Homo sapiens: one gene and its partner. The protein of the gene in region 1 interacts with the protein of each later gene in a pairwise test. Each region holds a gene or a part of one and is shown in the gene's direction. Other genes may lie near its edges.

The links.
Region 2: the proteins of VEZF1 (region 1) and CAPN3 interact in binary tests that used the Homo sapiens proteins (3 or more experiments, as listed by UniProt).

Annotation. Positions count from the first base shown.
Region 1 is NC_000017.11:57,986,251-57,989,998, reverse strand, and holds the start of VEZF1 (vascular endothelial zinc finger 1), read left to right. Parts: upstream 1-1,744; 5' UTR 1,745-1,887; coding exon 1,888-1,920; intron 1,921-2,048; exon of another isoform or gene 2,049-3,748. UniProt on the Homo sapiens protein: Possible transcription factor. Specifically binds to the CT/GC-rich region of the interleukin-3 promoter and mediates tax transactivation of IL-3.
Region 2 is NC_000015.10:42,383,457-42,387,204, forward strand, and holds part of CAPN3 (calpain-3), read left to right. Parts: intron 1-1,026; coding exon 1,027-1,096; exon of another isoform or gene 1,097-1,701; intron 1,702-2,246; exon of another isoform or gene 2,247-2,363; intron 2,364-2,509; exon of another isoform or gene 2,510-2,575; intron 2,576-2,710; coding exon 2,711-2,829; intron 2,830-3,748. UniProt on the Homo sapiens protein: Calcium-regulated non-lysosomal thiol-protease. Proteolytically cleaves CTBP1 at 'His-409'. Mediates, with UTP25, the proteasome-independent degradation of p53/TP53.

The DNA of each region.
Region 1 (3,748 bases):
GGAAGAAGCAGATTTGCTATCCACTGAATGAAAATAAGAAGAATTCCATTGTCCAAGGTCAGAGCAAGAACACAAAGGTTTTAGTTTACTTAGTTAATTCCTTAGGTTTGGACATTACAGGAGACATGGGGGTGACCATAGCAATTTAGCTGATAAATGTATCAGAAACTCTTTCATCATTTTCTGTCCCCTCCTATCTTAGGCTGACCGGTTCCCTGATGTGTTACCTGCTTCTGCTACTGATCCAAACTGCAGAACTTCTCATTCATCCCCAAGGCCTCCAGGCAGTATCCAATGGGGAATCAGCTCTAAAAGGAACCAGACCAACGTTTTCCAGCCCCTTCATTCTGGTGACTGAGGGGAGGAAAGAATGGGAGGGGGTATTCTTGTCTAGTGGATGGAAAGGAAACACACTGTCAAATTACTATATCTCCTTGGTTTTCTATTACAGTAGAATTCTCCAGCCATATTTTTATTGTCTATGGGGGAAGTTGGAGATGGTGACCTTGATTAGAAGTGTCTGGAGGGGGATAAATGGAGGGGATAAGATTCAGTTGGTTTTGGAAAATGTTAAAGTCTTAAAATAATGCGTCCATCTGAAGAATTTTTTCTAAAACCAGAGTTTATAAAAATATCACTGATACAGCCTGCCCCCTCATTTCCCTGCCACAGGAGATGTCTTGGACTAGAGACACTTGTTTAATAATAGCTTGTCTCTGATATTCCCAGTAGCTTCCCTCTGTGTGAGGAAAGGATAGAAATGTTCAGGACATCATCATACAGGCTCCTCATCTACAAAGTTCCAGTAGCAGTGACGCCTACACGGAAGACTTGGAACTGCAAACAGGCTGGGGTCACCTCAGTGACATCTGACGCTGTCCAACCAGAAGTTCGATTTTTGTTCTGGGGGTGAAGGAGGAAACAGACTGTACTAAAGGACTAAAATAATTTGTCTATACTATCTCACTTGTTTTTATTTTTGGCGGGAGAGGAGGGGTGTTGGGATAGAATTTCACATCCTATCTTGGAGTGAAGGGGAGGATGGGGAGGCTCAGCCCTTCACCCAAGAATAACCCAGTAATGACATCTCTACGCGTGGGAAGTGTTTCCCTCCACACTGAGAGGATCTGAGGCTGCACCCCAGTGGGATTCCCTGCTTGAGTTGGAAGGCCATCTCGCCATGAGATGCATATCATAGCGAGAGCGCAGAGGGCTTAGCCGGCCGGGGAGGAAATGCCAAAAGGAAGAGAGGCTCGAAGTCGAAAGGGCTTCCCCCAGTTTGGAGGTGGGGACCATGCTGTGCATGAGCGACTGAAGAGCCGAGTGTCCGCCGTGGCCTGTGCCCTCCGCTGAGGGTCTAACAGGGACGCGACGGTGCTGGACACCGTGTCTGAGTCACGGGAGACGGCCCAGCTGTGCCCAGCGGGCCAGCGCCAGACCCTGGCGTCCTCCATCTTCTCTCCTGAGCTCCCCCTGCTCCAGCTGCCTGAGCCACGGACCGCAGCACCACACACCCCCGCGGGGGGGGACGCCGCGCCCCATCCCCGCCCCGGGCCCCACCCCAGCCCCCCCGCGGGGGCCCTGACCCCACCGCCAGCGGGCACTGGCTGAGCTCCGAGGCGGCGAGCCGGCAGCGGGGACGCCCAGAGGGGGTCCGGGCGACTGGGGGCGGCGGCGGCCGGGCCGGGGCTCCCCCCCCGCCCGCGCTCGCCGCCGCGGTGGTGCGTCCCGGAGGTTACCGGAAGTGGCCGCGCTCGGCGCTGCCATGTTGAGGAGCCGCCGCTGCCGTTGCCGCCGCCGCCGCCGCCGCTTTGTTGTCGCCTCCTCCGGCTGAGGAGGCTCCCCGAGCGGGGGGAGTGGGGAGGAGGGGGGTCGGCCGCCGCAGCCATGGAGGCCAACTGGACCGCGTTCCTGTTCCAGGTACTGGGGGCCCCCCCGGGGGGGCACGGGGGGGACAGGGGGGCCGGGCCCCGGGCTGGCGGGCGGGCGGGCGCTCCTCCTCCCCTCCCTCCCGGCTCCGCTCTCCGGCCCGGCCTTAATCCCCCTTTGTTTTTCCGCCCGCCCGCCCCGGCGAAGCGGGGCTGCTGAGGTGAAAGGAGGCGGCCTCACGGGGTGCGGGGGAGATAGCAGGCCGCGGGGTGAACCCGGGGGCCCCCCAGCACACACACGCACACACACACACTCACACACACCCTTCCCTCTCGCTCTGAAGGGGAAGGGAGGAGGCCGGTCGCTGTCACCACCCCGCGGCCCAGAGAAAGGAGGGCGCCGGGCCGCTGGATAGCGCGGGCTGCTGGGCCATTGCGTGCCGGCCCGGTCCCCCACGGTGGGGTGAGGAGGTCCCCAGGTCCTGCCCTGAGTCTCCTCCCCGCCACTTCATCCATCTTTCGCTTGTTCTCTTTTCACCTTCCTCGTCTTTTTGTGTGTGTGCGTGCGTGTGTTGACTTTCTGACCCCCTCCCGTGTCCCCGCGAATAGCGGGTATCCCCAGGTTCCCCGCCACTCCCCCTCACCGCCACCACCCCTCTCGTGTTTACCCAGTTGGGGGGGCGGATGTTGTGAGTGTGTATCCCCTCCCCAAACTTTTTCACTGGATTTACATTTTTTTTTCCCAAGTCTCAGCCGAGCCTTGGCAGCTGACACCTTCTCCCTCTGTCCAGCTCTCCCGCCGTCCCATTCAGCCTGGGGAATCCCCCAGCCGGGCCGGCCCGGGGCAGGCGGGGAGCGGTGGGGGCCGGGACTCCTGGAGGCCCGACCTTCTCCCGAAGCGCTTTTCTTTCTCGCCCACCTCGAACGTTTCCTCCAACCAAGTGGAGAGAGCAAACAAAGTCCGCTTACAAAGCCCCCAGATGAGTCACTCTCTGGGATGTTGGTCTTCGCTTTTTTGCAAGAAACTTGAAAGTGACTGTAGCCGATGTGTTTTGGCAATTCTCTTGCCCGCCCACTTTAGATGGGGGACCCCTGTTTGGCAGATCTAGGCTGGAACTTATTTTTTTCCTACTTCGTTTCTGTTTGCAAAACGAAGCATTCAGTGGGCAGTAGCGATGAGCTCACGGGGAAACTTCGGAACTGGAGGAGGTTAGGAAGCTCGTCACTTTTAAGTGCGTTCTTCCCGCCTCTCTGAGTTATTTTCCTTTGAATACTTCGTGAAATCCCAAACGCGTAGCTGGGGCGCTTGATACCTTTTGAAACTAACAGGAACGGATGCAGAATTTTCAAAAAATTATTCTCCCAGCCACTGGATTCATCCTAGTGGAGTTAATATAGAGAATTGGATAACTCAGAAATTACCTACTGTGTAGACTGGCCTGTTGTTTTAAGACATATTTTTTCAAATGTGGGCAATTTGATCTTTAAGTAGTTATGGAAATATATTTGGGCTTCTTAAAATCTAAAATACCCAACATTATGGAATTCATGAACTTCCCCCTTTTCTCATTCTGATCAGTGTTGTTTTATTGTACTTTGATGAGCTTGCTAATAATGTGATAAACCAACTTGAAAATGCATTGGAAAAGAAATGATATATAACTAGCATGCATCCAGGTTGGTGTAAAGGTGGCAAATACTTTCCCCAGAAAAAAGCTCAAATGGTTATTTTAAAATATGGGATTGATGTGCCACTGAAGTGATTTTCGTGTGATTAAAAACCATATTAAGCATGGTGTCTATAGAGATTGAAAAAAAAAAGTGTTCTTCATGTAAAGGAAAAACCCATAACACATCTTTGGAAAGCTGGTTGAAAAATC
Region 2 (3,748 bases), on another chromosome or scaffold:
CACACATCTGTAGTCCCAGCTACTCGGGAGGCTGAGACAGGAAAATTGCTTGAACCTGGGAGGCAGAGTTTGCAGTGAGCCGAGATCGCGCCACTGTACTCCAGCCTGTGTCGCCCACTGCACTCCAGCCTGGCGACACAGTGAGACTCTGTCTCAAAAACAATACAAAACACTGAATCTATATTTTATTTATTTTTATTAATTTATTATTATTATTATTATTTTGATTCTCCTGTCTCAGCCTCCCAAGTAGCTGAGATTACCTGTCACCACGCCTGGCTAATTTTTGTATTTTTAGTAGAGACAGGGTTTCACTATGTTGGCCAGGCTGGTCTTGAACTCCTGACCTCAAGTGATCCACCCGCCTTGGCCTCCCAAAGTGCTGAGATTACAGGTGTGAGCCACCACGCCCAGCCGACACTGCCCTAACTCTCAAGTTGCATCCTTACTCGAATAGTATGACAGTGTGGGAAGCAGCATGGGACAATGTAAAAAGGAGGCATGTTTCTGGCTTCTGCTACTTACTAGCTGTGTGTCTTTGCACGAGTTTCTTAACCTCTCTGGGCCTCAGTTTCCTTATCTGAAAAATAACAATGATAGTATTCCCTTCACAGGGCCAAATGGAATACTATCAGGAACACTACATAATGGAACTCAATAAATAATAGCTACTGCGGCCGGGCGCGGTGGCTCACATCTGTAATCCCAGCACTTTGGGAGGCCGAGGCGGGTGGATCACAAGGTCAAGAGATGGAGACCATCCTGGCCAACATGGTGAAACCGTATCTCTACTAAAGATACAAAAATTAGCTGGGCATGGTGGCGCATGCCTATAGTCCCAGCTACTCGAGAGGCTGAGGCAGGAGAATCACTTGAACCCCGGAGGCAGAGGTTTCAGTGAGCCAAGATTGCACCAGTGCACTGCAGCCTGGCGACAGAGTGAGACTCCGTCTCAAAAAAATACCTATCTATCTATCTGTCTATCTACTGTTATTCTTACCTGGTCATTTCCTTTTTGTTTCACAGGAAATTTGCGAGAATCCCCGATTTATCATTGATGGAGCCAACAGAACTGACATCTGTCAAGGAGAGCTAGGTAGGAAAGTGCCTCAGGTCAGATCCTGCCAGATGATCAAGGGGTGATTACAAGGTGTGATCCCCTTCCAGGAGGTAAAGGGACAATCTGTGCTTGCTTCCAGTAACTTTTTGGAAGATTTTTTATAACAGTTGCTTTATGGTCGTTTATCTACATGCTGGCGATTGCTTCATTTCCTCCTACATGCCTCTTTAGCACTCTGCCATGCATCACAGGGGGTATCTGCATCCTGTGGCCTCCTCTCCAGTATCTCAAGGACACTTACATACCCCACTCAGCATGACAAAAGCCCTGCTTTTCACTGTATCGTCTTTCTTGGAAGACAGCTCTGTGACTGTGCACCAAGCATGCCCCTTGGGCATGGAGATTCTAGATACACACACAAAAGGCATCGCCAAGGAAAGCACTTGTAACTGGAACCCTTGTTTAAATTGCCCCAGCATAGCTCCATCTTAAAAGAGTCTTTCCACAAAGATGGCATCCGCCATGTGGATGAGCATCCAATTTTCTCTTTGATTGGTTAGCTTGACTGCTCCATCTGATCTTCCTCTCTCTCGACCTCTTGTTCAGAAAGTATTGTCTTTGGTGTGGACTATAAGCAAGCTCTGTGAAGTAAAATTGGAGAGAACACCAACAGAAACAATTTAAATTTGAGGAAAAGGGGGCACCTAAGACCAAAGGAATTTGGCTTATTTCATTCCAGAAGGGGAGGCTGAGAATAAATCAGATGAATATCTGGGTTCCTGCACCTGAGGGAAGGCTTCCTGCAGAGCCCTGGGCATAATAATCTGGGACCTTCAAACCAATAACCTCTTTCCAAGGAAAGACTGGCTGCTTCCAAGGAGGGTAGGGGAGAGTGGCTGCAGGCAGCTCTCAGTCTCCCCTGCACACTCTCAGTTGCATTTCACTTAACCCATCCTCCTTAGAAGGCAGCTCTGTGACCAGGTACACCCCCTATTATATATATATATACACACACAGAGAGAGAGAGAGAGAGAGAGAGAGAGAAAGAGAGCAAAGTGTTACCTCCAACTACATACAGTACTCTGTCAGAAAAGAGGTTCAGAGAATAAGAAAACGTCCCGAGCTCATTCCGTTGCCAGCAATGTCTTACTGCCCCCTATAGACGGGTTCCAGGGCAGCTGCCTACCTGGCCTTCCTTCCAATACAAATCATCTTGGTGGATGGTTCTCTGAGGCTCAGTCTTCGCTGAAGTCAGAAGAGGAATTGGACTCACATTGCAAAGGCACAGGGCAGGGCAGATTTCCTACAGGTGTTAGGAAGAACAACCCAGTTATGATCACCTACTGCTCTGTCTCCATTGAGGCCTAAAAAGGAAGTGAGTTTATACTGCAGTTGGAGGAACTGCCTGCAGCCTTGAGGAAAATGTCTAGTCACAAGGGAGTAAGTTACCTGTTGATCATATTGTCAAGGAATTCCTGTCCAATTCTCCTTCCCTGGGTTGACACCTCTGTAAGGTCAGATCTGGAAGTAGGAGAGTGGGCACCAAGGGAGTCCCCGTTCAGGGAAGTGGAGTGGCTGGCTGGGATTGGGGCTTTTTCTTCCCAGGAGGAGCAGGAGTGCTCACGATCTGTGCCCTGTGTCTGCCTGCAGGGGACTGCTGGTTTCTCGCAGCCATTGCCTGCCTGACCCTGAACCAGCACCTTCTTTTCCGAGTCATACCCCATGATCAAAGTTTCATCGAAAACTACGCAGGGATCTTCCACTTCCAGGTGAGGTAATGAGAGTGTAGTTAAGAGGGCCAGCGGCAGGCCACCCACCGCTGGTCTCCTGGCCTTGACTTCCCAGAAGCTGGAGGAAACTTCCCACCCATCTACCCGCAGCGGCAACAGTCGGCATGGACCCCCTTAAGGCTTCAAGCCTGGGAGGAAGCAGTTGCTTATCTCTGGCTCCCTAATCCCTCCCCCACCACCTTCCACTATGTCCCAGAAAGACAGGAAGACATCCTGTTTACTGTGGGTCTATTTTTGTCTTTGCAGCTGTCTGGCTGCTTTTATTGCCTGCAGCCCTTCTCAAGTAGGTCCCTAAGATATTAGCACTGTGACACCACAGGACCCTTCAGGTTGTACAGGAACCCCTGTCCAGGGCTCCTGTATACTTCTTCCTCTCTAAGGCATGGCGGTACCAAGGCTATCACTCCTCTCTTCCAAGCCCTGGAAGAAGAGTCTGCTTAACCTGGGGATCAGGCTTCTTGTTTGCCCTAGAACTGAATCTGATGGTTCTAGAATCCATCCAGCTACTGGAAATTTTCTGGGTCCCAGTCACCTTGGCATAGAGCTGGTGCTAGAGCAGAACCAAACTGAATTCTACCTGTGAGGGTCTCGTAGCTTCCGGGATGCTGGGGAGTCAGCCTGTCTCCAGCTTCAAAGGCTCCCTCATGTCCCAGGATGACCCACATTATCAGTTCTTGCTCCCCGGGTCTTGCACCTCAGCACGGAAGGCCTCAGAAAAGGTCTGTCTCCAGGCTCAGACTCCCCCTCCTGCCGCCTTGGGAACATGGCATATTTAAAGGGTCTCAGATCTAAAGGGCCTTACATACAAATATCAGATAGATTTCTGTTCTCATTTCAATGAGGGAGAAAGTGCCATTGAAAAGGAGACTAAACCACATTTGGCCCTTTTCAGTTCAAA